Linked DNA regions of Homo sapiens: all the other regions are linked to region 2. The links come from fine-mapping of genetic effects on gene expression. A gene starts in region 2. Each other region holds a variant in brackets. All regions are shown on one strand. Distances are between the middles of the regions.

Evidence for each region.
Region 1: its variant is fine-mapped to the expression of GLB1L2 in testis (GTEx, PIP above 0.99). The same link has a PIP of 0.9 or more in thyroid and unexposed skin.
Region 3: its variant is fine-mapped to the expression of GLB1L2 in tibial nerve (GTEx, PIP 0.96).

What each region holds. Positions count from the first base shown.
Region 1 is chr11:134,367,529-134,377,311 of GRCh38, forward strand. It overlaps GLB1L2 (galactosidase beta 1 like 2), which reads left to right. Exons shown (of 19, transcript NM_001370461.1): 10 at 1,116-1,253; 11 at 2,277-2,357; 12 at 2,765-2,871; 13 at 3,480-3,620; 14 at 3,893-3,964; 15 at 4,224-4,302; 16 at 6,193-6,280; 17 at 6,617-6,728; 18 at 7,074-7,190; 19 at 7,444-8,796. The coding sequence ends at 7,530. LOC124902798 (a long non-coding RNA gene) reads left to right here and starts at 9,268. Exons shown (of 2, transcript XR_007062961.1): 1 at 9,268-9,726. RefSeq lists an enhancer at 8,933-9,783. The variant A/G (reference allele first, on the strand shown) is at 4,905.
Region 2 is chr11:134,327,632-134,337,445 of GRCh38, forward strand. GLB1L2 (galactosidase beta 1 like 2) reads left to right here and starts at 4,357. Exons shown (of 19, transcript NM_001370461.1): 1 at 4,357-4,516. The coding sequence starts at 4,431. RefSeq lists a silencer at 4,207-4,506.
Region 3 is chr11:134,378,810-134,388,623 of GRCh38, forward strand. B3GAT1 (beta-1,3-glucuronyltransferase 1) reads right to left here. Exons shown (of 6, transcript NM_054025.3): 2 at 8,739-9,131; 3 at 4,871-5,379; 4 at 3,901-4,197; 5 at 3,115-3,215; 6 at 1-1,938. The coding sequence starts at 8,850. The coding sequence ends at 3,129. Among named protein-coding and RNA genes, the nearest start is that of B3GAT1, 29 kb to the right of the region's middle. The variant C/T (reference allele first, on the strand shown) is at 6,093.

The sequences.
Region 1 (9,783 bases), 40 kb after region 2:
ACATTGCTTGTTCGTGTTTTTGTAATTAGAAGGGTAATGCATGCCTATTGCAAACATCCAGAAAATACAGAAAAAGTATAGAGAAGAAATAAAATTCCCAGAGCACAGAGAAAACACTTAGCTGTTTACCACGCAGGCAGTTCTCTCTGTATCTCTGCCGACAGCTCTATACGCACACACAGATAGAGACAGATGCCATCACACTCCGCTGCATGTCACCTGCTTGTGCCAGTTAATGCACATACGGACAGCTTTCTGTATGACCAAATACAGATTTACATGACTGTTTTAAAGAATGTGAAGAGCCCCATTCTAAACCACACTTTGTGGACACAGTCTCCCGGGTTGTTTCTGGTGGTTCTGTTAAGCGCACGCCATCCCGGCGAGCATCCCGGTGAGCATCCCGGAGCCTGCGCTCTGCGCACCCGGCTTTCCCTGGGATGAGCGGCACAGGGGCTCCTCGGCACCGTGTAGATGTGCATGCTCGCCCCTCAGCCCCCGGAAAGACGGCAGCTTCAGCCGCTGCTGCTGAATGGGTGCACCCATTTCCCACAGATTCAGCAACACCGAGTATTAAAATAACTTTTAATATTTGTCTACTCAGTACATCATTGTTTAGTCTGCATTTCTTTGATTTATATTGATAAAATATATATTTATTAACCATTTGTTTTTCTCCTTTGCTATGATCTTGTTATGTCATGGTTCATTTCCTAACAAAGGTAGAATAGGAGGTGTCAGAGTTTTCTCTCTAAGGATGCATCCCATCTTTGTGCACTTGATACACCTGGTCAGGCAGACTCACATGGAGACTGTGCTGGCTGGAAGGCCCTGGCCGACCTGGGCTGCAGGTGGTCCACATGGAGCTCAGAGACTTGACCAGGATTGACAGACAACTGGAGGCTCGAGCTCTGGGGCCATGATTCTGGCCCACACTTCCTCCTCCACCCCTAATCTTCTGTGATTGGGGTTTTATGAGAGCTAGAAGGACAGAGTGACAAAGTTGGCCTTGAGGTTTTGAGGTGGGACTGGGAAAGAGGAGAGTAGTGAAGGGACCCCGGCTCATCTCAGACTTTAACTCACTCTGCACATCCCCTTTCTCCCTCCTCCGGCAGAGGTTTTGAAAACCGTGTCTGCCATTGTGGACGCCGGCTCCTCCATCAACCTCTACATGTTCCACGGAGGCACCAACTTTGGCTTCATGAATGGAGCCATGCACTTCCATGACTACAAGTCAGATGTCACCAGCTATGGCAAGTATTCATCAGCACTGCTCTCCCTGGTCTGCCCTGCATGGGCATGGCTGGGACTTGCTATGGAGAGGCCCTCAGGGTCAACTTCTGGCACCTTCGTGTCTTTGGCAATAGAGTACCTGGAGAAGGTACTTGCCTGGACAGTCATGTTACACTCCCAGAGGAGGGAAGCCTCAAGGGAGGTGGTGTGCCTGTGAGCTGGTCACTCTACAGAGAGGCCTCTTTGGCAAAGGTTGGCCTGAGGAAGTGGAAGGAGACCGCCCTAGGGGGACAGGGAGGGACGGTGGCCTCCCCTCCCTGCCCAGGCCCTTGAGGAGGTGTGATCCTGCCTCCTTTAGGTTGAGAGTCCCAGAAAGTAGAAATTACACCTGCAGCTAGAAATTTAGGGCCATGCTGTGATCATGGACAGTTTGTGTTTTTTTGAATTTGTGAGAGAGTTATCACTCTGACACCCAGGCTGGAGTGTAGTAGTGTGATCATAGCTCACTGCAGCCTCAAATACCTGGGCTCAAGTGATCCTCCTGCTTCGGCCTCCTGAGTAGCTGGGACTACAGGTGTGCACCCCCACCTCTGGCTAATTTTTAAAATTTTTTGTAGAGGTGGGGGTCTCGCTATGTTGCCCAGGCTGGTCTGGAACTCCTGGCCTCGAGCGATCCTCCTGCCTTGGCCTCCCAAAGTGCTGGGATTACAGGTGCGAGCTGCTGCACAAGCGATCCTCTTGCCTTGGCCTCCCAAAGTGCTGGGATTACAGGTGTGAGCCACTGCACAAGCGATCCTCCTGCCTTGGCCTCCCAAAGTGCTGGGATTGCAGGTGTGAGCCGCTGCACCTGGCCTTATGGACGCTTGTTGTAGTTGCCTGGTCTTTCATGTTTACAGTATTTTGACTGAATGGCTCAAAAGTGTCTTGCCTCCCCAATGGCTGAGATGAAGACCTGTGGCCCTTCCAAGCTTCTCCCTGTTCTTCGTGCTACATGTGCTGTGCTGGGGACAGGAATGACCATGACAGGGCCCGGTGTCTTGCAGACTATGATGCTGTGCTGACAGAAGCCGGCGATTACACGGCCAAGTACATGAAGCTTCGAGACTTCTTCGGCTCCATCTCAGGTACCCAGCAGACAGCAGACTCAAGTTCCAACTCAGGCCCTCGCTTCTGCTCTCAGACCCCTAAAGAGTTACTTCCTTACTGTCCCACCTCGACCCCAGTTGATCTGCGTGCAAGAATATCCTAGACAAGGACAGGGAGGTGTGTGAGGCTGTTTCCATCTTGCCGGCTTCACCTGTTACAGGTGTTAACGCTCCTTATCTCCTGTGGAGGACGGGAGAACGCCCTGGCTTTCCCCCAGGCCTGGCCTTCCTCCCTGGCCTCAGCAGGTGCTGAGAGCTAGCCTGTTGTTCCTCTTGGTGCTGGGACGCAGGAGCACATCGGGTCTGTGGATGGGAGCCGGGTGGGGAGGACGAGCAGGCAGTGACATTTGGGTCCGTTGGGGGTGACCCTGTTTTCTGTGTTGCAGGCATCCCTCTCCCTCCCCCACCTGACCTTCTTCCCAAGATGCCGTATGAGCCCTTAACGCCAGTCTTGTACCTGTCTCTGTGGGACGCCCTCAAGTACCTGGGGGAGGTGAGTGCTGTGGGCAGTCATCGGGAGGTGAGTGAGTGCCGGGGGCAGTCGTTGGCAGGGAGGTGAGTGCTGGGGGCAGTCGTCGGCGGGAGGTGAGAGTCGTCGGGGCAGCAGGGCCTGGAGCCCCTCCAGACAGGGAGTGTGGGGGGAGGCAGGCCAGTGCCTGGTGGCTCTGGGGTCTGCTCTCCGGCCTTGGAGCTCAGAGGGAAGAGGACAGACTCATGCTGGAGTGTGAAGTGGGAGAAACAGAGGTCCCTGAGGAACAGCGGCTGGCCCCGTGGGCCTTTCCTTCCTCCAGCCTCAGAGAGGAGAGTGAGGGGCAGAGGAACAGGCCGTCCCCTCCCCAAGAAGGGGGTGCCTCCTCCGGCGGACTGAGGCTGTGATGTGTGTCCCCTGCCTGCGGACTGCACTCTGCTGGTGCACACCCCTTTGCCCCACTCCTCTTCCCCGTCACCCTGGAGAGTTGTATGTTTAGTGCAATGAGAAGTCAAAGTAGAAAACACCCACCAAACCTCCGCTTCCACCCCATGTGCCAGCCCCCAGGCAGAGTCTGTCTGTGACCCCACTCCTCCTGAGCCTGCCCACCCCTCCATCTCTTCTGTACGCAGCCAATCAAGTCTGAAAAGCCCATCAACATGGAGAACCTGCCAGTCAATGGGGGAAATGGACAGTCCTTCGGGTACATTCTCTATGAGACCAGCATCACCTCGTCTGGCATCCTCAGTGGCCACGTGCATGATCGGGGGCAGGTAGGAGCTTCTCTTCTAAATTCCTGTGACCTTCTGGTGAGCAGCTCTGCAATAGGCGTCTCATGCCCTCCCCTCAGAATCAGCTCTTACCAGTGTGTGACAATGGCCCTTCTGAGTCAGCTCTGTGAGCCTTCAGGGGGCATTCATGTCTGCTCTGCCCACTGGCCCCTCGTCTGCCTACAGGCACGCGTGCTGCCCTTCTTGGCCTGGAGGAGGTCCCGCTTACCCTCCTCCTGTTGGTCATGGATGTTCCTGCCTGTTCCCTTTGGCAGGTGTTTGTGAACACAGTATCCATAGGATTCTTGGACTACAAGACAACGAAGATTGCTGTCCCCCTGATCCAGGTTCGTTGTTTTTGGGAGCTGGGTGATGGCTAGCCCCCGCTGCTTCGAGGAAGTCTGGGGGCAGTCACTGAGGAAAACCTGGGAGACCCGTGGCTCCTTACCCACAAGCTGTAGGTGGAGAGGGCGAGTGTGGCTTTCTGCCCAGCTGGGATGTACACTCCCATCCCCAGAGCGTAGGGAAGAACTGGGGTCCACAAGCAAATTCTGAGGGGCAGCTGTGGCCTTCTGACAGTCATCGTTAGCCCCGTGTTCCCGGCAGGGTTACACCGTGCTGAGGATCTTGGTGGAGAATCGTGGGCGAGTCAACTATGGGGAGAATATTGATGACCAGCGCAAAGGTGGGTCCCAGAATGTGTCAAAAGAAGAGTGGCCATGCTGGACACACAGGTGGCTATTGCTTCTCTATGCTAGCAGGCCACCAGGCCATGGAGGCCTCTTGCAGGGAGGTGGAGGCTGGGTTGTCCCATACATGAGGCCAGTTCTGAGTGGGCCAGAGAAACTCCGCTGGGCTGTGGCCCCTGTCCTGTTAGCACTGCACGCGTGCATCGTCTGCGTGCTCGTGATAAACACTGTGAACACTGAGCTGGCCTCTTGTCTCCCCTGGGCTGCAGTCGGTTTCTGCAAGGATGTCTGCTTGGGGGGGCGGCAGTGAGGAGCAATGAATGTGATTTCCAGGAATCCAAGGAAAGGCACAAGACCCCTGCCTTCTTGGGCCTCCACACTGAAGTTCTCTTCTTGATCCATCTTGGGAAAGCTTATCTCAGATGTTGGGGGAGGAGGATGCGGGACATACAGCAAACAAAACACCTGTTGGTAGCGTACCCCTCTGGGAATAGGCCGCCAATTTGCTTTATGTTTCCTGGCCTACTAAATCTTTTATGCTTTAATTTAGCCCTTCCTTTTTTTTTTTGAGACGGAGTCTCGCTCTTTCACCCAGGCC[A/G]GACTGCAGTGGTGCAATCTCGGCTCACTGCATGCTCCACCTCCCGGGTTCATGCCATTCTCCTGCCTCAGCCTCCCGAGTAGCTGGGACTACAGGCGCCCGCCACCGTGCCCAAATTTAGCCCTTCCTTTTTAAAAAAAATCTAGCTAAATGTGGGTGGTTTCAGGTAAGTTATAAAAAAAGAACTCAGAACAAAATGAATGCGACTGTGGTGAGCAGCACCGGTGACCTCCCAGCTCTCTCACGGTGTCTGCGTTTGTGACGGAGGAAACTTGAAGAGCTCTTATTGGTCCACATTTCCTCCGAGAGCCGTCTGGTGGCCTGCCAGGAAAGCCACGTGGCCCAGACACTGGGGCCTGGATCCTGGGGATCAGGGCCCTTCTAGATGGGCCTCAGAGCGGCATCTAGCACCACCCAGGCCCACACTCCTTTACCCTAGACAGCTCCCTCTCTGGGCCTGTCCTCACTTCTGTTGTTCTCCTGGGAGTTGGAAGGAGCACCAGCCTGACCATTGTTCCTAACTTTGCTTCCCTGAGCCCTTGTTGAGGGTCCCCTGGGCCCACACTGTGGAGTCCTGTCCTCTGGATCACAGTTCAATGTTTATAAGTCACAGACCTCCCTTGAGAAATGCGCGTGCCCACATAGACCCGCACCTGCCATTTCGGAGTCTGTAGGCCCTGCAAAGCCTCTCCACAGTCCTCGGCCTCCAAATTCCCAAGCTAGCCACTCAGCAGCTCTGTAATCTGAGACTGGCAGGGCTGGCCCGGCCCCGGGACACTGATGAGTGGCTCCTCAAGAGGACACATCTCTTCCCTGTTGGATGCCCGAGGGAGGGTGCCATCTGCTCACAGTCCAAACACTCCTAATGCACAGCTTTAATCCTAGGTGGCAGAGATGATTCTGGCTGAGTTATTAGGTCTGTGTAGCTTGGGCCCCACTGAAACTGGCCCTGCAGCTAGGCCAGAACCCTCTCGGTCATCTGGAACTTCCTTCAGAGAGAGGCCAGAGGTTGTTCTCGCCCTGTAACACCTCAGCTCTATATCCTTCCCATGGCAAATCTTAGGGTCTTCCTCCTTCCCGTCCCCCACAGAATTGCTAGGGAGCTTTGCTTGCAAGCGAACGGCTTCCCAGGGAGCGTACACTTCAGTACCCCTCACCCCAGCTTCTCAGGGAGCGTACACTTCAGCACCCCTCACCCCAGCTTCCCAGGGCTTCCCCTCGTGGCCCCGGCCCAGCTGACTCGGCCCCTGCCTTTGGGCTACCCACGTGTCCTGCCTCCCTCCCACAGGCTTAATTGGAAATCTCTATCTGAATGATTCACCCCTGAAAAACTTCAGAATCTATAGCCTGGATATGAAGAAGAGCTTCTTTCAGAGGTGGGTCCCTGCCCAGCACCAGCCCTTGCACTCACAGGTATAGTGCTGTGTGGTGGGGCCCAGGGGTCCCTGGTGCACCGTGGCCTGGCCCGCACCCAGGTGTGAACGCCTCCAGGGGCCAGATCGGCTGGCCGAGGTGAGGGGTGGCACCCGCACTAGAAGCCGCATTTGCAGACTAGGAATTCCCAGCATCCTACCGTGCTGCCATTCTGTGTCCTGGTTAAGAGGCGGGGGGCCTTGGATGGGGAAACGGTGTCAGGGCCTTTTATTTTGCTTTATTGTGCTGGTGGATTGAGAAGGGCCTCCTCCCTCTCCTTCTCTGTGTTCTGTCCTTAGGTTCGGCCTGGACAAATGGAGTTCCCTCCCAGAAACACCCACATTACCTGCTTTCTTCTTGGGTAGCTTGTCCATCAGCTCCACCCCTTGTGACACCTTTCTGAAGCTGGAGGTTGGTAACGCCCTTTTCCCTGCCAGTTTCTCCCACCTGCCTCCCGCCTTGGAGGGCTCTGAGCCAAAGCCACGAGCTTGGCGAGAGTCGTTGGTGGCTTCTGTGCCCAGAGGGTCTGAGAGGGCCGCTGGGGCCTCCCTGGGCCAGAGGAGTGGGTTCCCAGCAGAAGAAACACCTCATGCACTAGGGGGACAGGAAATAGAGCATCCCACCTGCCCACCCTCATGGCTGTCCAGACACAGCTCGCTTTGGTCTCCTGGACCTGAGAGAAGCACGCATGCATGTCTCCCTCCACTTTTGCTGTGGCTCTCGTGGTAGATGAACACCCTTCCCCTCTGTTTCAAGGGCTGGGAGAAGGGGGTTGTATTCATCAATGGCCAGAACCTTGGACGTTACTGGAACATTGGACCCCAGAAGACGCTTTACCTCCCAGGTCCCTGGTTGAGCAGCGGAATCAACCAGGTGGGAGCTTCCAGCCCCTTCCTGTTCCCCATGACGCCCTGCCCACCTGCCGTCCCAGGGAGCCTTCGGTCAGGGTGGAGGGGCGTGTCAGCGGGTTCTTCCTCCCTCCTCCTCGCTGCAGACGAGTTGTTGGTCCCTGTCCCTTCCAGCCTGGTTCCCAAACCCTTTCCTTCTGACCCTGCCACCTCTCAGCACCTCCCCTGGCTCCAGGACAGACGTCAGCTGCCCTCCCAGCCGGGCCCTCTCTCCACAGGTCATCGTTTTTGAGGAGACGATGGCGGGCCCTGCATTACAGTTCACGGAAACCCCCCACCTGGGCAGGAACCAGTACATTAAGTGAGCGGTGGCACCCCCTCCTGCTGGTGCCAGTGGGAGACTGCCGCCTCCTCTTGACCTGAAGCCTGGTGGCTGCTGCCCCACCCCTCACTGCAAAAGCATCTCCTTAAGTAGCAACCTCAGGGACTGGGGGCTACAGTCTGCCCCTGTCTCAGCTCAAAACCCTAAGCCTGCAGGGAAAGGTGGGATGGCTCTGGGCCTGGCTTTGTTGATGATGGCTTTCCTACAGCCCTGCTCTTGTGCCGAGGCTGTCGGGCTGTCTCTAGGGTGGGAGCAGCTAATCAGATCGCCCAGCCTTTGGCCCTCAGAAAAAGTGCTGAAACGTGCCCTTGCACTGGACGTCACAGCCCTGCGAGCATCTGCTGGACTCAGGCGTGCTCTTTGCTGGTTCCTGGGAGGCTTGGCCACATCCCTCATGGCCCCATTTTATCCCCGAAATCCTGGGTGTGTCACCAGTGTAGAGGGTGGGGAAGGGGTGTCTCACCTGAGCTGACTTTGTTCTTCCTTCACAACCTTCTGAGCCTTCTTTGGGATTCTGGAAGGAACTCGGCGTGAGAAACATGTGACTTCCCCTTTCCCTTCCCACTCGCTGCTTCCCACAGGGTGACAGGCTGGGCTGGAGAAACAGAAATCCTCACCCTGCGTCTTCCCAAGTTAGCAGGTGTCTCTGGTGTTCAGTGAGGAGGACATGTGAGTCCTGGCAGAAGCCATGGCCCATGTCTGCACATCCAGGGAGGAGGACAGAAGGCCCAGCTCACATGTGAGTCCTGGCAGAAGCCATGGCCCATGTCTGCACATCCAGGGAGGAGGACAGAAGGCCCAGCTCACATGTGAGTCCTGGCAGAAGCCATGGCCCATGTCTGCACATCCAGGGAGGAGGACAGAAGGCCCAGCTCACATGTGAGTCCTGGCAGAAGCCATGGCCCATGTCTGCACATCCAGGGAGGAGGACAGAAGGCCCAGCTCACATGTGAGTCCTGGCAGAAGCCATGGCCCATGTCTGCACATCCAGGGAGGAGGACAGAAGGCCCAGCTCACATGTGAGTCCTGGCAGAAGCCATGGCCCATGTCTGCACATCCAGGGAGGAGGACAGAAGGCCCAGCTCAGTGGCCCCCGCCCCCCACCCCCCACGCCCGAACAGCAGGGGCAGAGCAGCCCTCCTTCGAAGTGTGTCCAAGTCCGCATTTGAGCCTTGTTCTGGGGCCCAGCCCAACACCTGGCTTGGGCTCACTGTCCTGAGTTGCAGTAAAGCTATAACCTTGAATCACACCCCCTCTGGTGATAGTCTCTGGTCATGTGTGCCACTCTTGCCAGAAGGGAAGGCTGTCTGAGAGCTTGGTTTTCTTGGTCAGGTTCCCATTGGGCCCCACTTGCCGCCTGGGGGTCCAGATGGGGACCGTCCCTGGGGTGGGTGGGCCATGATCCTGGCCTCATATTCCCCTCCTGACCCCGACTTCCCTTCAAATGTCTCTGGATTGGAAGTGCCCTGGAGAGGACAGTTCAAATGCAAATTCATTCTCATGCTGGTGGGCGGGGGTAAGAATCTGCCAGGCAGTCAAGGGCGCTCCATATGAGTTAACTGCGGGGTTGAGTTTTGCTTCACAAACTACATCTGGCATCTACTGCCAAAACCAAATTATCTCCAGTAAGAGTCAGAAAGTCAAGTAGCACACACATCCCCGGCACAGCGAGAGCTCTGGGAGCCCCGTGAAGGTGGGCTGGGGGATGGTGAGCCGTGGAGCTCACTGAGGCCAGCAGGCTTGCTGCCCGTGTGTGGCTGCCCAGGGGGAGTGCAGGGGACATTCGTGGTGTGCAGCCCAGCAGCTGAGCCGGGTCAAGGGCTTATTAAATGGAGCTTATTAAAGGAAAGCTTGTGGACAGTGGCTTGGGAACAACATGGGGCAGAGTCCCTGGTTTTGCCCAAACTCACCAGTTCTTCTGGAACTGCCTCGGAACGACAAGCATGGGGCTAAGATGTGGATGAGACTCGGGCTACTTGGGTGTGGCCTGAGCCACCTGCAGGGTCTTCTGCCCCGCTTTACCTGAGTGTGTGCTTCTGCAGAGCTGTGTATGAGCTGGTTCCGTCAGAAAGTGATGGAATGGAAGGGAACCTTCCTGCAAATCCTCCTGTAAGGTGGAGAAGCCCCTTGGATCACACTTCCACGCAGACCTGAGCAGGACACACTGTGGTTTCCTAAGGTGAGGTCTTCCTACACCAGCTTCTTATTCTCACCCTTATTTTCTGCCAGTTAATTG
Region 2 (9,814 bases):
TTCTAAGTTATCATCACCGCCATGTTCAAACCATGCAGTGGCTCCCATTTCATTCAGAGTCAAAGCCCTGCTCTTAAAGGCCCTGCATGATCAGGCCCCTGTATCTCTCTGTCCTCATCTCCTGCCTTCTTGCCATCACCTCCCACGCTGTCCTCCTAGCCTTTCCTTGGACACCAGGGACACCAGGTCATGCTCCTTCCTGAGGGCCTTGGTACGAGCTGCTCTGTCTGCTTGGACAGTGCTTCCTCCAGGTTCTATCTTGGTTCGCTTGCATGGAGAACTCCCACTGTGTTCCGATCTTTGTTCAGCTAATGTCTTTCCGGGGAGACCGCCTCTCTGCAGACCCCTCCCCACCACATTCCCAGTCCTCCTTCCCTTATTACTTTTTTTTTTTTTTTTTTTTGAGATGGAGTCTCACTCTGTTGCCCGGGCTGGAGTGCAGTGGAATGATCTTGGCTCACTGCAACCTCCACTTTCAGGGTTCAAGCAATTTCTGGCTAATTTTTGTATTTTTAGTAGAGACGGGGTTTCACCATGTTGGCCAGACTGGTCTTGAACACCTGATCTCAAATGATCTGCCTGTCTCAGCCTCTCAAAGTGCTGGGATTACAGGCGTGAGTCACTGGGCCTGGCTCCCTTATTACTTCTTAAATTTTTGCAATGGAGTTTACTACCTTTGAATATACTCTACAGTTTACTTATTCATTCTGTTAAGTTTTATTGTCTTTCTTCCCTAGCTAGAACAGAAATTTCAAAGAGAAGAGATCTTTGTTCTGTCCACTGATACATCCCAAGCATGTGAAACAGTGTTCAGTATGTTGTTTATGGTCATTAAAATTTGTCATTTACTTTTTAATAAATACAATGCTGCAGAATTAGATCTTTGGCTATTAGGCCTTCAAAGGCTGAGCCTACAAAATGATAGTTAGGCTTGGTAAGGCCAAAGATCAAGTTCTGTGCATCCTTATCGGATGTGCACAGGCCCCTTCCAGTCCCACTCACATATCTTTGGGGCTGAAAAGCTTTGTCTACTTCCTTTATCTTAAATCTGCCTTCTCTTTTCTTTTTCCTAGGCCAAATCTCCATTCCAGGACTTTCTATTTTGTTTTGGCTAGGGTTGAAATGGCCCTCATTTATTCCCAGGAATTCTCCTGTGCTCTGAATTTCTTTGTTCAAGACCCCTGGCAACTTGACATCATAACTGGACTTTGCTTCTCCTGAGGGGAGGGTGGATGGGGGTTGCTGGACAGAGGTGTCTGTCCATAAGGAGGAGGTGGGGAGGAGAGGGTTATATCTTGGTCCAGGGGCCCAAGTGACTGTACTATCGTAGAAGCCACATTTTTCATCTTATTCTCATGACTAAAAGAAATTTTGCCAATGTTTTCCTAAAATTCAGATATCCTGTGTTTAAAGCATTAGCAGAGTGCCCTCAAAAATGAGTTACGTGAATGAATAACTGATCTGTAAACCTGTTACCTATTAAAAATAAAAAGTGAAACAGCAAATGAGACTAGTTTGACATGATCGCTTTTCCCACGTGACTTCACTGTACTGATTTTGAGCGAGTGTGGTTTTTATTCTCCTGTGTGTGCATTTTGTATGTGTTTCGGTTTCCCGCTGATTATCTGTGATACAGGAATTTTCAAGGAAGGAACTGTGCCCTCTGGGTCTGTTGGAGCTCTGACTTAGAGCAATGGAAATGGCACACCAACAAGATTTAACTTTTTTAAAAAGCATTTCTTGTATTTTCTAAACCCTGGACACTAGAAAGAAGGCCTGGGAAGAGGATGATTCCTGTGTACCAGGGATTCATTACCAAGCCAAGCACCTTGGCAGACCACTTTTTTACCCCACTCTTATGCCAGCTCATTGTAACTGTAGCTTTTGTTCCCAGGGATTTGAGTATTTTCACTGTCTGCTTTGGGTTAAGATCACTAAACATTTTGGAAAGGAGACACTGAAGGAGTATCTTGCTAATTTTTTTTTTTTTTTTTTTTTGAGACGGAGTCTCGCTCTGTCGCCCAAGCTGGAGTGCAGTGGCACGATCTCGGCTCACTGCAAGCTCTGCCTCCTGGGTTCACGCCATTCTCCTGCCTCAGCCTCTTGAGTAGCTGGGACTACAGGCGCCCGCCACTACGCCCGGCTAATTTTTGTATTTTTAGTAGAGATGGGGTTTCACCGTGTTAGCCAGGATGGTCTCGATCTCCTGACCTCGTGATCTGCCCCCCTCGGCCTCCCAAAGTGCTGGGATTCAGGCTTGAGCCACCGCACCCGGCCTAATGTTTTAAAAAACAAAAGTCTCAGGCTGGAAATGGTGACTCACGCCTGTAATCCCAGCCCTTTGGGAGGCCGAGGCAGGTGGATCACCTGAGGTCAAGAGTTTGAGATCTGCCTGGGCAACATGGTGAAACCCCGTCTCTACTAAAAATACAAAAATTAGCCGGGGAAGGTGGTGGGTGCCTGCAGTCCCACCTATTCGGGAGACTGAGGCAGGAGAATAGCTTGCATCCCGGGAGGCATTGCAGTGAGCTGAGATTGCACCACTGCACTCCAGCCTGGGTAACAGAGTGAGACTCTGTCTCAAAAAAAAAAAAAAAAGTCTCAGCCTATGAGCAAGACGCATCTCGGGTTAGTGCTAACTTTGTAGCATTCTGTGGTATCATTAAGCCCAGATAAAGTAAAATTGTTCCTAGACTGTGAGCAGGGTGTGTCCCTAGTTCTGAACATCCCACAAGGTTAAGGGGAAATTTTTTTGAAAACACTCAGTTATGTATATTTTTCTCGCACAAATAAAAACGAAGGATACAAGGGTGGGCCAAGGAGTTCACGGTTTTCACAACCCATGTTAAGTTTTTGCTAACGTTTGAAGAAAAATGGAGATGCTTGTATTGCTTAAACCATTTGAGAATTCCCTTATATTTGATAGATTCTGCCACTGTTCAACGTGACCAGAAGTGAGAGGATGAATGTGGGGTGCATGTCTTTCGGATGGTCCCCTGCAGGCAAAGGGGCTAGCCTTTGACAATTTCTCCACACGCTTCGGGGCTAGCTGGTATATTCCAATTAAACCAACATGTTTCCATCACAGACTTCATAGCCATCAAGCAATCATAGCCTTACCCAATGGAGAAAAGGAGCGGGCTTGGAGCGCGTCCACGGGAGTGGGCCTCCCTCTGCGCGCCTCTGGGAATGTTTGCGGTGCTTAAGTCAGACCCGGATTGCTCCAAGCCCAGCTTATCCTCCCCAGTTCTGCCAGGGTTTTTTTCCTCTTGTTTGTTCGTTTGTTTTTGCCTCTCTTTGATTTAACTTTTGCTCCTTGACTAAATATGTGCTTAACGCTAGACAAAGGACACTTCATACCCAAGTCTGTGTCTTTGTTCCAAGATCTGCAATTTCATTTGGTTCCTGTCGGCTTTACAAGTTCAAAACTATGCCCCCGTTTAGGAAATGAATTCAAAGCATGCGGCAAGGGAGACATTCGACAAACCCGGATGCTCTGGAAAACGTTGCCCTTCCTCGAGTTTCTTTCAGTAAAATCTGAATTTTGTTCCCGGGAGGAGTTGGGTTTGTGATTGCTACAGTGTAAGTTGCACCGAAATACTACATCATGTTCTTTGGGACATACATTCTGTTTCAGAATAAGAATGATATTCTTCCTTTCCTAAAATGTGAGAGTTTTATATGGACCTTTTTAAAATAAAAAATTGGAAGCCCTTGGAGTCAAGGCCAGAGTAAGACTCGCAGAAACCAAAGACAGAAAATATTTGGAACCCCCCCTCCTCAGACATGAACCACACTGAAATGTGTCCAGATACAATTCTTCAAAATCCTGGCTTTTCACAGGATGATTTGTTATTGAAAAAGTTGTTTGCTTCAGAATCTGAATTGTTTTAAAAGATTCTGTTGGTTGCCCCTGCTTTGCGGACGCCTTTTGTACGTTCTTCCTGATGTAGCGCTGCGAGGGGCGACTTTACCTCGGCGTTTGACAGGTACGCAGCATTCCCGCACCCGCCTGCGCCTCGCGAGCAGAAAGACGGCGGACTCTGCACCGCTCCACGACACTGGGGACCCGCCCCGGCCAGACCCGTCCCCTACCGAGACCTTGTCCCCGCCCCGCCCCCGGCCGGGGCCCCGCCCCGCCAGCCCCGCCCCCGCCAGCCCCCTCTCCTACCGAGACCTCGTCCCCGCCCACCAGCCCCGCCCCGCCCCCCCCCCGACAGAGGCCCCGCCCCGGCCCCGGCCAGCCCCGCCCCCGCTTGCGCGAGGCCTAGGGCTGCAGGCGCGGAGCCGCGAGCCCCAGCCAATGAGCGCCGGCGGGCCGGTTGCCCAGGCGACCAGTGCGCGGCTCCGCCCCCCGCGGCGAGGCTCCCGCGCGCGGCTGAGTGCGGACTGGAGTGGGAACCCGGGTCCCCGCGCTTAGAGAACACGCGATGACCACGTGGAGCCTCCGGCGGAGGCCGGCCCGCACGCTGGGACTCCTGCTGCTGGTCGTCTTGGGCTTCCTGGTGCTCCGCAGGTGAGAGAGAGCTTCGCGCAGCACCTGCCGGACCCCACATTCCCCAGCCCTCCGCACCTCGGGTTCTCTCCTCCCGCGACCCGCGAATCCCGAGTTCCCGGGGGGAGCAGCCCCAGCTGCTTCTTTCTGGGAGCTCCCCAATACCCCCGAGTTCCCCTGCGGCTGCAGGCACTCTACTCCTGCCGCGCGATCCAGGCCTCTGGGCGACACCCGGCGTGCCCTCGGGAGCCGGCGTCTGTGCCCCGAGCCGCCCACCCCGCCGCGCCTGTGACGCCGGGCTCTGCCCCCCGTGGACGCCCGCAGCCCTCCAGCCGTCAGAGCCCTCTCAGACGCACCCCATCGCGGCCCCGTCCCCACTGCTCCGCGGAGAGCTCCCTCTGCCCTTCCCCCAGGCCCCCCTTTTCCTCCCAAGCCTCTGGGAGGCGCCTTATTCCGCAGAGGCCGGCGCTTCAGCCTGGCAGGTATGGTCTAGCCAGCTGGCCTGGCAGGGTCGTAAGAACAGTGTCCGTGGGCCTCCAAGATCCCGGGCCATGATTTATTTGCACAGTAGGACTGATAGGTCGTCTCTCTCCACTTTCCCACCATTCACCTGTTACCAGCTCACCCTTTCCTCTCCCCCTTTTCCAAATGTTGTTTATGGCAAAGGAGTGGCTTCAGTGATACTGTGATTTACCCACAGCCTGTGAAAAAGTTTTCTGGGTGCCCTAGCCCAGCATTTTTCTAAACTGTGCTTATTTTAAGGATTCTACAGCCCTGACCCTATCTTTCAGGTCAGCACTTTCCATATTCAAAACCTCCAGTGGGAAGCCGACCGGCAGTATCGAATGAACTGAACGGTTGGAAGTGGTGGCAGGCCCTACGCCGCTCGGCTTTGTCATTTGCTTCTTTTTTACTTAGAGAAACTAAGTTCTTAGTTTCTCTGCACTTCCCCTGGGAGACAGGGAAGTTTTTGATGGAGATAAATATCTGGAAGTCCTTTGTGGCCAGAAGAACACACTGACAAACTCTATGTTTACACCTTGTCAAGACTGGATTCTTGTTTCTGAGATAGTGGGGACGTCATGATATTGTTTGGGAGAAGGACGGATTTTCTTCTCATTCTGGGGCCCAGAAAACTTCAGGCATTTAACTTCTCCGGTTGTTCCCAAGATGTTTTCTGTCCTGCCTAAGATCTCTAAGCCATTCCTCTCTGAAGATTGGCCCTGGCTCCTGTGGGATGCTCAGCTTTCCTCCCTGTGCAAGGCTTACGCAAACCCCAGAAGAATTACTCAGAGCAGCGGCAGCAGATCCTCCTGCATACAGCAGGGTAGCAAGGCGTGCAAGCTGCCAAGAGAAAGGCTAGCGGCTGCAGGCCTGTTGTTGGTCAGGGATACAGGAGTCCGTGCAGGGGACCCAGGCAGGTCACTATTTGGGGCAGCACTGTGGGCTTGAGATGGGCTGAGTGGTACACCCAAAAAGTCCCCAGGAAAAGGTATGCGAAGGAGGCTGAGGGTTTGTTATTGTTTGGTGGGACAGAGGTGAGGTGGCAGGGAGCTGACCTAGCTGGGAAGACGCCTGAGCTTCTTTGAGGTGAGGTAACTGTGTCCCCACCTAGGTGGGGTGACCGCACTAGGAGTCAGTCTTGGGCCATTGGAGCAGGTGGAATGGCAACAGAGAATAAAGAGCTGCAACCAAATTCTGTGAAAACAGTTTGGCCTGCCTGGGAAGGATGTTTTTCTTGCCTCTCCATCCTTCTAGCAGGTAGAACAGAAGCTCAAGGAGCTCTGAACCAAGTTCAGGGCCGTGTCTTCAGATCCTGTGGAATACGTGTCTTTTTGGCATCTTTTTGATTTTTTCACCCTCATGGGTACATTCTGCCAGTTCCTCCTGTCTGACTTGGGCTGGACACCAGTGAGTATGAGTTGCTGTAATATCTCTGGAGGCAGGAGGAGAACATCCTCTTTGTCTTTCCCTCTTCCTGTCTTGCCCCAGCTCTGACTGGGTCATTAACTGAGTGGGAGGTGGGGCCTCTCCCAGCTGTTACTGGGCAGTGTTGAGGTGGCCAGTGGAATATAGGTCACGTGGAAACTGGCCACCAAGTTCACTCTTTGTGGAGCCGAGCTGTCAGGAGCAGCCCCTTTCCTGTAGCAGAAGGCAGGTATTTGGACAGTGGCTGGCATGGGCTGGGGGATGTTTGGCTATAGCTTTTCTTTTTTTTCATCAACTTTTCCTTGGGCTGGTTCACGGTCAGTCATAGCTGGTGGGTTACATCATATCAAAAGACTAGGATGACCAGGTTGACTTTTGGGGAGGATTTCAGTCTTAGAATTTTTATTTTTATTTTTTTTAAGCGTAAACAGTGGTCTTTCTTAAAAATTACCTTTATTGGAGTTTAATTAATATGTACAATTTGATAAGCTTTGACACATATCTAAATCCAGCTGTGAATCTATCACCACAGTTAAGATTGTGAAAACAGCCACCAGCCCCCAAAGTTTCCATGTACCTCTCTGTCATCCCTCCCTCCTACTCCTCCCTGCTCCCCAGCCCCAAGCAACCACTGATCTGTTGCTTTCCGACACGATATATTGGTTTGCATTTTCTAGTGTTTTATAGAATTGTAATCTTAAAGCATGTTTTCCTTTTTGGTCTGGCTTCTTTCACTCAGAGTATTATTTTGAGGTCTGCGATGCACGTATCAGTGCGAACCGTGCCTTTGAGCCAGTTGCCTTTCATTCTCTTCCTATTCGCACTCCATGAACACAAGAATGCCTGCTTGATATTATCTAAAGGCATGGTTCTCATTCATGATTTTTTCCTTAATATAAATGAATCACCGAGCAAGAATACAGGCAACGCTGCATCTCTCATACCTGAAATTTTAGCTGGGAAAGTTGGGAGAGGGGAAAGCCTTCATGTGGGCAGCCAGCATCATGCTCCTAAGAGGTAAGTTCATTTCTTCTCTGAGGTCCGTCTCACACACTGCCCTGCCCTGCTGTTTTCTTTATTCCAGACCCCAAATTCTTCCTATAGAAAGGAAAAGGAGGAGATGTATCAAACTCTTTCTCCTGAACAAGGTGGCTAACTTAGCAATGCAGGTCACTTTTTTTTTTTTATGTGAATCATGGCCAGTCCTGTCTTCCAAGGGTATGTGGCCAAATCATGCCTCTCCTCTGGAGCTTCTGGGAGGTAATTGATTTTATGGGCCTTGCCTATTCTAGGACTCTTCTCTGCTTGAGGCCTGAGTCATATTTCATGGAATGTTCAAACTCTTTGAACAGTGTTCCTTTCATCTTGTAGTAGTAAAGTTTTCAGCATCGGGGAAGTGTCTCTTTCAGCAGGTGATCACCTGTTGGATACAGGTGTTGAGGGATGTCTGAATCACCCTGTGCTAGGAAGATCGAGTTGGCTCTGGGATTCTTACAGGACCATGCTAGCCACCAGCAGAAGGAGACCAGAGTTGTCTTGGAGCAGCCATAGTATTGGTATAGGTGTGATTCAAGGGAGGGACTGGGCTACCAAGAAGATTGGAGACAAAGAGCCTGGGCTGCAGAAATAGCAGAAAGTTGACCAAAGGGTTCTTCCCACCTTAAGGTAAGGAAGTGGCAAGTGAAATAAAAACATGTAGTCCTTGATGAAGTGGTGCAGAGTTCCACGAGGTCATGTCAGACGCTCTTCTGGGAAGAATTCAGGAGATGCTGTAGCTTGCGGAGAAAGGTTTGAGAACATTTGGACCTGAAAAGGACTCTGGGGTCTAGGCACGTCCTCCCTCCCTCCCTCTCCACCATCACCAGCAGGGGCAGGGTTTTTTGGTGTCAATGTTGGGATATTTGCTGCTTCCTCTCCACTCAGTTTTAGCTTTTGCTTAAATCTATTGCTCTGGATATTAAAGACCGTATTGAAAAAGAGTTCTCATGTGTGGATGTCTCCTGGGATAGAAAGGCAGCAGGTGTTTTTAGAGGCTCCTGCTAACGAGGTAGATATTTCTTGACTCGTGTCTGCCTGTTAGAGACTCCTTGTTGATACTCACAGCTTCTGTTCTTTGACACTCAGCGAAACAGTCAGTGGGCTTGTTCCTTTCAAGCACAGATTGTATTTTTTTCCCTTAAGAAGTTATTTTGTGAGTAGGCAATTAATGAACATGGTAAGTATTCAGAGTGTGAAGGGGAATAAAGTGAAAAGAAACTCCCATTCCTGGCCCCTAGGCTAGGCACCCTTCCCTATCCCCTATTCATATCAGCTGTTACTACTGGTAATGGCTTCTTTCAGAAATATTCTATGCATATACAAGAAGATAGCTACACATATTATCCCACTTGTCCATTAGACACATAATTTATTTAAACAGCCTTCTACTGATGGACATCGATTGTTTGCAATCTTTTAGCTACTGTAAACAAAGCTGCTGCAGATATCTGTTGGATGTATTTCTATAAGTAGAATTGCTGACCGTAGGATAGATTCATTTTAAATCTTGATAGACATTTCCAAATAGTACATTTTATTTCTGTTGGATCAATGTAAAGGAGATTCCGAGCCCAACTCAATAGGGCCAAGTCGATTCTTGAGTCTTGTAAGAGCCAGTGCATCTCTTGTATATCTTCATAGATAAGTCCTATGTGGTGGATTAAAAAAAAATTTAACATAATAATGTTTTTCCGTATTTGTGATATCATTTCATTTAGAGTCTACAAGCATCTTGAAGATCAGGGGCTTGTTATCAAGAGTAGAGGCCTTGTGTTATCTAACAGAGCTTTCTCTCTGGGTGAGACACAGTCCTTTTCCTGTTTATGATGCTGTCAATGGTCCCAAAGTACTGCAAAAGTACAGAGTAACAGAATGTTAGAACACTTTTTGTTGTTGTTATTGTTGTTATATGGTTGATTAGAGTGAGGGGTTTTTGTTACTTTACTATTGGATCTCAAGGTTTTGGTCTAGTAAACTCTTCTTCATGTACTCACTTCCTACAGTCTTTAGGAAATAACTGCTCTCTGAACCACCAATATTGCTTCCGGGTCAGAGCCTGGATGTGAGGCCAGGGTTCCTGCCTTACCTGGGAGCCTTTTCAAAGGAAAAAGCAGAGGAGCTAGGATGGCAAGAGTGCTGTGGACCTCTTGCTGGGGACCTCACATCTCTGCAAGATGCATATACTTGCCTTGGGAATGGCAGGCCAAAGCCCTTGGGCGTATTTAATGCCTCTCCCAGCAAACAGGAGTCCAACACCTTGGGCCCAGACCAAGGAGCACATATAGAAAGCTGGGCCAGAAACAGGGACCGACTTCCATTTCCCTGAGGCTGAAGTTCCTGGAGCCCGGGGAT
Region 3 (9,814 bases), 51 kb after region 2:
AAAGAGGATATTAGGTGAAAACAACTGACCTAGCATCTGCCCAAAGAAGTCCCCATTTTGTTGTTCATTATCAAAGTCCTGAAAATGAACCCTAGGTTTTTGGCTAAGAAGGTGGCCTCAGACCAGCCAAGCTGACCTTGGCACTTGGCTGGCTTCTGTGAGGCAGTAGAGTGCCCACACATAAGCTCACCACCTGTGCCCACCTCCTCCCTTCTCTCCCATGCCACCCCACTTGCTTCCAAGGGCTTGGTTTCCAAAGTGACATCCAGGGTGTAAGAGGTTGGGGAAAACGTCCTGCAAGGTGGCTCAGGGATCTGATTCCATCAGATGGTCTCATGAATACTGTGGGAGATTAAATCCATCTCAAAATAGGCAACCAATGCTATATTCTGAATGTTAGGTCTCTGGACTGAGTCCCACCCACCCACCCACTCAGGAGTGGGTTCTGAATGGCCCTCAGACCTCTCCTGGTGAGTCTTAATGGGGTGGGAGGCTGTTAGTTAAAAAATAAACACCTCTTCAGTAGGCTGGGGCCCTTTCCTTTTCCTCCACTTGGGGGGAAAATTGTGCTTCCAACTTGCAGGAGAATGAGCCGGATCACCACTAGAGAGCCCGGCTGGGCCAGGGGGTCAGAGCCCTTTCCAGTGGGCCCCAGAGGCCTGGGGAGGGCAGGAGTTTGAGGCACACTGTTCTTTCTCCAGGATGGAAAGTGGACAGCTGGACATGAGGTGGGCTAGCTCTGCATGCTCCTGACTTAGGGAGAAATAACATTTTCTTTCCCTTTTTTGTGTTTAGAATAATTTCCAAAGCAGTGTGCTCAGGCCTCCCTCCTGCTCAGTGTCCCAGCAGCCCCTGCCCCCTCTTTCCCAGCCCCTCTGCTACTCCAGAGTCCCTCCTCCTCAGACCAGGGGCAGGAGGGAGTTAGGGAATGGCCTTGGCCTCCCTCCTCTTTCCAGGCTGCAGGAGGTCCCACCTTGCCCACCACCCACCGCCTTGCCCACTGCCCACCATGGGCTCACTCCACCCTGAGGTCTGTGGCTCTGAAGAGCTGCAGGAAAAGGCGCTTTCCCTCCCCAGTCCAGTCCAGGCGAGGGGCCTAGCAGCCGAGGTGGGCGGTGGGGAGGCAGTGTGTGGACAGTGGGGCCGTGGGGTTCTTAGTCCAGGTCAGGCAGTGACCTGTGCTGGCTCTAGAGCCTACCCCTTTGCCACTGCTGGAGGAGAAGGGGTAAAGGAAGAGGGGCCGGAGGGGGGGACTCTGCTCCCGCCACAGCCTGAGGTACAGGGGGTGCCTATTAGGCCCAGGCTCCCCCCATGCAGGGCTGGGTGCCTGTTGGGATCCAAGACAGCCTTATGCTCTGTAAACGTGAACCAGAGGAGAGCCACAGAGGTATGTCTGATTTGGGGGCAGCTCTCGGGAAGAGCAGGGGCCCAGGAGAGGAGCAGAGCGCTCGTGATGCCCGTGGGCTGCTCTCTGGTCTTCAGAATTCCCTGGCTGGGTGTCCTGTGTGGTCGTGCTGAGCCCAGGGACAGGGAGCCAGGGAGGGCCATGCTCCACTTGACTGCGGGGTCTTCTTATCTCCCTCCCGCCCTGCATCACTGCAGGGCCAGTGTGGGCGCCCACTGCACCTGCTCCTGCAGCCCCGTCAGTGCGGGGAGCTCTGGGGAGGTGCGCTGGAGCACCAGCTTGGCTGGTGCTGGACACCCCACCCTGGCCATCAGGTCTCTCGGGCCCTGGTCACGCTGGATGGAGAGAACAACAGGTCTGGGATTTCTGTGCTTAAATTCTCTGTCCTTTGTTCTGGCATCAGGCTGGGCTCTCTCAGAAGCCCCCAGAATAGAAAGGAGGGTGATGGTGATTCCTTAGGAGTCGGCCTTGGAGGGACCATCAGCCGTGGGGAGAGGATGGAAGGCCAAGAACAGGGTCTGAGGAGGAGGCTCCTGTGAGGGGAGAGGAGGAATGAGTGAGGTGTCGGCTGAGGGTGGGGCCGGGGAGGGAATGGCCAGGCAGGGCCACCAGGACCTCTGCAAAGCCCAGGCCCCCAGGTCCTGTGGGGGCCTTTCTGAGGGGCAGGTGGGGAAGGTGCTTCCAGTGAGGGCAGTGAGGGCAGGAGGCAGAAGTGAGGCTCGGTACAGATGCATTCTAAGTGGCGCTGGCCAAGGTGACTGAGTGACACCCTGTGGTCCTCTGCGGGCAAACACAATACAGAAGCTATTGCTTAGCTCCAGGGCAAGAGGACAAATGTCTGTCTCAGGCCTCAACCTCTGTTTGGCATAACCTAGAGTAGGGAGTCAGGAGTACCAGCTGCTTTTAAGAGACAGGATAAGATCACAGAAAAGCCCCTGAAAATGCCTGGCTTTGCCAACCACCCAGCACAATTCACTCGTGCCAGTGTGTCACCTTGGAACATTCATTTAGCTTCTCTCAACATCATTTCTTTGCTTCTGAAGTGTAGGTGGATCCTGTGGCCTACTTCCAGAGAGGGCTTTAAAGACTTGAATAAAAATAGCCACACTGATGAGATTTAAGTGCCATGAACTGTTCTAGGTGCTCTCAGCAACCTACTTCACAGATGAAGAAACTGAGGCCCAGAAAAGTCAAGTCAGGTCAAACAGTGAAGAGCAGGGGTCCTGGGAGCTGAGGTGGGCTCTGGGTCCGTGCTGTCACTCTGCGCTACCTCTCACTATGACAGCCGTGGGCTCATTGCTGTGGAGCAGCGAGTCCGTGAGTCCTCACCATGGCCACGTGGTGAAGGAATCCACAGGGGAAGAGGCAGACTTGGGGGGACAGACGCTGGCCAGCGAGAGTCTGAATGGCAGTGCCTTGTGGGGTGCAGGCGTCACTGCCAGCAGAAAAATCAGCAAGATGTTTGGAAGGTGACACCCTCTGAAGAGTCTGGTGGCAGAAGGACCCAGCTGCGTGGGTGAAAGTTAATGCCTGGATACTTTCAGGTGGCCCAGTGGGAAGGGGACTGTGGTGACGACGCCCTCCACTCCTGCCCACATCTGCCCTGTCCTCCACAGTGAAAGCCCAAGAGGAAAAGAATGAGACAGTTGATTCGGCCCAACCTGGTGCCGCCCTGCCCAGTGTGTGGCCCACCCTCGTCATGCCCATACCTGCATCCTGAGGCTCAGATCTCCACCGAGGGGTCAGTGAAGCCCTTCTTGCCCTCATTCACCAGCACTGGCTTCTCTGTCCGTGTGTGCCACACCAGGATCTGTGTGCCCAGAGATGCAAAACATGGTGGGACAGGCCCCTGACCTCACTCTGCTGCCTCCCTGCTCCCTCCCACACTGTGTAAACATTTCTCCTGCCCCTCCTTTTCCTTCGAGAGTTTTTCAATTGTTCCATCAAGATTTTCTCAATTGTTTTTTATTTATTTTCTGTGGCTCTCGACTACCCCCTCATTTTTGCTGTTTTTACATGTGATGCCTTCGGAATACCTGCTGGAAATGGGAAGTCTAGAACTACAGAAAAGAGAAGCCCCAAGACTTCCCAAGTGTGTGTGTGTGCATACGTATGCATGTTCATGTGCATATGTGTATATGTGCATGTCTGTGCATGTTCACCTGCATATATGTGTGCATGTGTGTGCATCTGCATGTGTGTGTGCGCACATGTGTGCACGCGTAGGCATGTGTGTGTGCATGAGTGCTCAGCAGGGAGGTGCTGGAGCACGGCTGTTCTGTGGGAGGTTATAACTCCCCAGTGGCCATTGCTCTCCCTTTCCCTGCCTGTCCGCAGTGTCGCTGCCTTACAGGTGATACACTGCCTTCCTGGGAGGGGGTTCCAGAAAGCCCAGGCTATTTTGAGGCCTCTGTTTCCTTCTCCCGATCTGTAGGGAGGGTCTGGATGTACTTGAGACATTGCATCACAGCTGTCAGTTCTGCGGAGGGTCTCACCTTGGTGCAGTTGGCTGCCTTGGGCTCCAGGTCGTTGAGGGTGACAAGTTCTCGAAGGAGGCTGCTTTCCTGGTAGCCTCCCTTCACACCTCGCAGCTTGAAGTAGGCCTGGCTTCGCTGCAGAATGAGCCGCAGGTTGACGGCAAATCCAGCCATGTCTATTGCAAATGGCCGGTGGGGGTCAAACACCGTCTTCCAGCCGACCACCTTCCCTGCCCCGTTCACCCGTGGGGCCTCGTACCGCAGGCCACCCACGAAGGCGACGGGCCACACGGACACCCTCCTGGTGCTGCGCATCTACAAGGGGGGGGTCCAGAGTCAGGGCGCCGGCACTGCAGATGAGGACGGCCGCGCGTGCCCAAGGGAGGCGACATCCTTCAGCCACCTCTATCTATGCCCATGGCCAGCCGCGGCCACCTAGGGGGTGTCCAGTACAGCCCTGCCCCCAGGACCCATCCCATGGGTTGGGCACCTGAGAAGAACCTGCCCTGGGCTGCCGGGGACACCTGACCTCTCAGACGGCCTGGTCTTCCCCTTCTCAGCGTGGCCCTGCTGCTGTTTTCTCCCTTGTCTAAAACCTTTCAGTCTCCCCGCTCTAGAGTGTGAAGTGACTCCCCTTGTCCCCGAGACTAACACAGCCCATATACTCAGGCGAGCTCCAACTGTTCCACCTAAGAGGTTTCTGGTAGTCACGCAGAATGACCTACTCACAAACCCATTCAGGAGATACCTCTAGGGCCAGGAATATGGTTTAGGGGCTCCAGAGCCACCTGTCTTCCCCCTAACTTGTGGGGGATGCTTTAGCCCGCAGTTCCATCCCTTTCCCTGGCTCTCTGCTGCCTGCCCCGCTCCCAGCCCGGCTTCCCGGGTTCCCCCTGCGCGCGCCTCCGCACCCACACCCCCTTCTCGGGAAGCCCCTCCACTCCCCGCAGCCGGAGGTCCCGCTGCTCACTGTCGGGCCCTCCCTCACCTCTTCGAAGAGCTCCAGGCTGTAGGTGTTGTCGTCGTCGGCGAAGTAGACCACGCCAGGCTGGCTGGAGTTGCGCGGGAAGGTCTCGCGCAGCCAGCGCAGGGCCAGGTTGCGCTGCATGGTGCCCCGCGGGATGCGTGGGTCGCGGGCGTCTCCGCGCAGCTTGTAGTTGCGGGGCGTCTCCACGTGCAGGTGCGTGTAGTTGAGGCCGGTGTCGCGCAGCAGGCGCGCGGTCAGCGGCGTCCGGCGCGGCGCATCCTCCACCACCAGCCAGTGGAGGTTGGGCACGTGCAGCAGCGTGTTGGCCATGCGCGTCAGCTCGGCCTTCTGCACCGGGCGGCTGTAGGTGGGCGTCACCACGTGGATGGTGGGCAGCGTGTCGGACCATGGCGGGGGCCGCGTGTACACGTACTCGGTGCGCACCACCTCCACGATGTCGCGGTCAGACGTGCAGTACTCCCTGGGGTCGGCGCCGGGCGGCGTTTCGCGTCGGGGGTCACTGCCCTCATCTGCGGAGTCGGGAGACCGGCGATGTGGGAGGAGAGCGCCGGCTACGGCCCTGGATTCAGAGCGGGACGCCACCCACCCTGCCAGGGCACCCTCCTCCTCCCCCGCTGCAGGGGCTGCTCAGACCCCCGCCTTGCCTGACCTGTTAGCTCTAAGGTTGAAATCTGCAGCCCTGGAATCCTCTCTGGGAGGGTCCTAGCTCTGATGACACAGACATAACCTCTTCCTTCCCACCTTTGCAGCCCTCTAGCTATTTGAGCGCAGTTGCCCATATTCCAAGATTGCATCCTCAGTTCCTGAATGTGCTGACTTTCCTATGAAAAGGCGTCCCGACCCTCCCCTCCCTAGCCCTACTCATCTGGAGGGAGCTGGCCACACTGCCCTGTGCAGGGCTGGGCTAGCAGAGCACGTGGCACTGCCCCGCTGTGGTGTGGACGCCACAAAGCCCCAGGGCCGCAGCACTGCGGCAGCAACCAGGGCCCACTGTGGGCCCGCAGGAGCCTGAGGCAGCTCCCGGAGTTCTCAAGCCCTCCAGTCAAGCGGGGCCTCTTCCCTCCTGGCCTTACGTAAGGCATTCTCTGAATCTCGGTGCAGAACTTCCTATTTCACCGCATTTTATTCTCGTGGGTTTTGCCCATAGTTGCCAAGGTATATGTAGATCTAGCAGTCCTAGCAAGAGGAGAAATCAGGGCCATTGGGATTCTTGTTTTCCATG[C/T]GTCCCTTCTCTCCAAATTCTGTCCTTCCATCGGAAGGGCTCATGCACCAATGACGGTGTGGCCCTCCTGTCCTAGCTTACCGTCGGGTGGTAAAGGTAAGAAATCCCGGTGCCTGGGCTGAGACCCTGCCCACTTCTGCCGTTACGAACCCTGTGCCCTTGAGCAAGCTGCTTAGCTTCTGGCGCCTCAATTTCAGCAACTGTAAAATGGAGCTAATAATAGCATCGAACTTATCGAGTTATTATGTGGATTAATGAGTCCACAAGGGCTGAGAGCACCGCCAGGCACAGTTTCCTCTCTTGCGGAAGGGCAGTGGCCAACTCTGCTTCCTTCTGGCTTCAGGCAATCGGTGGGGACAGAACCAGCAAGTCACACCAAAGGGGAGGACCCCGGGCATCAGCTCTTCTGCTGCCTCCCTCCGGCCACTGTCATCGGCAGCATGTGGGGTGTGTGGCACGCTAGCGTGGAGCTCATCTGAACGGACCCAGGAGGCCTGCTCGTGGCTCTTCAGGAGTTCTCATGGGCAAATGGCACCAGGCACACAGCAATTGCTGAGGGTCGGGGGAGGAAACCAGCACACACGCAGTCGCTCAGAGGGGGCTGCTTAGAGGAGTCTGGGGTCAAACTGTGAGAAGAGCAACGTGGAAGAAAGCGGGATGGGTGTCTAGGGTTCTGACCTAGACAGAGGACTTAATTCATCCTATGGGCAGTCAAGTTTTGGAAACTGAGGCCTTGAGAGGAAGTTTGGAGCCACTTTGTCCACCTCTCTGCCACCCAAATCATCCCAAGGCCGCAGAGGACCTGTGCCCTTGGACAGTCCCCATACATTAGGGCACGGCTACTGCGTGTGCTCCTGGGCTTCGCCCTTCCCATTGGCTTCAGGGCGTCTGCAATTTTGGGTCCTAAAGGCCTCCTGGTGACCCTAACTTCACTCAGCTGCAGCTTTCATTCGCTTGCTCTTGGCATGCTCTGGGGAGACAGAATGCCAAGTCCCCAGCCTCAGGCAGCACCATCAGTGCTTAGCAAACAGCCTGACGTCTCCAGCGCTGGAGCTCTGCCAAGAACGCAATCGACACGATATCATGTCGCTTTATATATAGTAGTTTTAACCCCTCTGGAGTGATGTATTTGCAAGATAACAATGATTCTGAACTGACAAGCACAGAGAAGAGGCCCTAGGGTCGGGAGGAGAGGATGATGTCAGGAAGACAGGCGCCAAGTGCCAGCCACGGGCAGTGGGCTGCCGCAATGTTGAGCTTGGCCCTTCCTCATGGAAGCTTCAGGAACAGCTATGGGTTTGCAGGACTTGGTATTTGACTGTGAGGAGCAGCACGACTTCAGGCTGTGATTTTTGGACACTGCCTGCATCTTGGGGTTACAGGCACTCACCACCTCTCTCTGCATGGGCTTGGTGCTGCCTTCTTGTTTATCACACTGCCAGGTGGTATCATGCACGCTGCAAACGAACAGCTGCCTGACCCCACGTGAGCCTGTGCATGTAAGTGGGGGAGGGGGCAGAAAAGCACGAGACAAAGTGCTGAAGAGCTGGGGCAGCCAGCTGTGGGGTGCGTGGCAGGTTTGGGAGTGAGAGGGAAAGGCGACCCAGGACCCAGAGCCAGGGGAAAGGAGTTCTACCCCTAGTTCTTCCACTAGTTCTTCACGGGACTTTTCCTCTCTCCAGCCCTATTTCCACCAGGTAGCACTAGATCAGGGTTTCCTACACAGGAAAAGAAGAGAGGCAAACAATATACTCTCTGTGAAAGGGTTTAAAACACACTGCAGGCCAGAAATCCTATTCCTCCCCCACCATCCACTTCAGAATGGTCGCTTTCCTTGCATGTCATGAAATGGCATGTGAAGTTGTACATGCGTGTCTTTCTGTGTATGTGTGTGTATTAATGATGTTTGTTTTTTAAGTTTTTCTGTATTTTAAGATGCGTCGACATCTTGGGGGACTTGCAGATATGGGGAGGGACTGCCCCTCCCGGGACTAGCTAATTCCTAGTGACAGTACACACCTTGCCTGCAAACACACTTTTCATATGCAAACTACCTGATCTAGAGCTCATACCCACTACCACCTTTATGGAGCTCTCCCACCCAAGCCAATCTTCCGCTGCCCTAAACCACCCCAGGGCGATACCAGACAATTAGAAACCACACCCATATCCTAAACCCACTGACTTTCTTCAGACTATGCAATTCTGGGCCAGCTCAGCTGCCGACAGTGCTTCGCCCTTCCCTTCCTATGAAAACCACTTTCCTTCCTACCAAAACCACACTAAAGACTCCCACTCCCTCCACTTCCCACCTCCCCCTCCCTTCACTTCCCACCTCCGACCTCAGCACTTCCCCAGGGGGCAGGGCGTGCCCCCTCCTCTTGGGTGCTGAGAGTAACAAGCTCTTCTTTCAAGGCAACTGTCTTGGTGTCTGCCAACCTACCATCCCAGGCATCTTAAAACTGTGTGGGTAGCTTCCATTAGCTTCCCATTCCCAAAGGGGTGCAAGACTCATGAAGGGGCCTAGATGATCCCGTGGTTCCTCCTAGCTGCTAAGTGAGTGCAAGCAAGAACCCTGCGTGTCAGCTGTGGTCACTGTCACTACCAAGGCCCAGCTGGGCAGGCAGGGCATGCGTGCGTGCTCACCCTTATGTACCGCGAGCAGGGGTGCGAGGGTGCTCTGGTGCCAGACAGTGATGAGCAGAGTCCAGGGCAGCACGATGAGGACGATCGCTAGGATGTCCCGTCTCTTCGGCATCTCCAAGGCTGGCTGCACCCACGGCTCCTCATTACCTGAGTGGCGGTAAGTTCAGGAGAGGGGCGGCCACGGGCGGCGGCAGCACAGGGGAGAAAAGAACAGGCATGGGCCGGGCCGGCCAGGCATGGAGAGGACAGAGCAGCTGAATGTTGGCTAGCAGGTCTTACCAGCACTCACAACCCACCCATTGCGGAAGCAGGTTTGGAGAGTCCGGCCCAACTGGAGTCTGAGAAGGGGTCGCTGTCCAGGGGCAGGGGTCAGGAACCCTGGGGGGTGGACACCTGCAAGAGAGAGCAGAAGCGGATAGCCAGAGACCCAGGTATAGGAATGGATGCCAGCAAGGCTGGGCCCTGCTCTGGGACACACAGCATCGGGGGTTCCACAATGGAGCCTCAACTGTCCATCACCTGAGGACCTCTTTTGTCTGCCTGTTAGAGTGGAATGGGCTCTGTCCTTCCCACAGGCACAGGGCCATGGCTCTGCTCCATTTATGAAAGTCAGTAGGGTGCAGGGGTCAGAAGCACAGACTGCAGAGACACCAGGTTTAAATCCCAACTGTGCCACCCACAGGCTGTAAGACCTTTGCCAAGTCATTTCCGTTCTCCATGCCACAGTTTTCCCATCTATAAAATGGGGCACTGTGGATCCCTACCTCATAAGGTCATTCTCAGAATTAAACAGGGTAACTCCCGTGCAGCCCTAAAATGCCAGCTACTTATCAAAGCCTGGATAAAGGGGTGAGAGGTTTTATTTTCTCTCTCTCTTTTTTCTTTTTTTTAACCATATATGGACCACGAATTATTATATTAAAAATAATTTCAACATTTTAGATTTGGGGGCACATGTGCAGGTTTGTTATGGGTCATATTGCATGTGATGCTGAGATCTGGAGTATGATGAATCCCGCTGCCCAGGTATGAGCATAGTACCCAACAGGGCGTTTTTCAGCCGTTCTTCCTTTGAG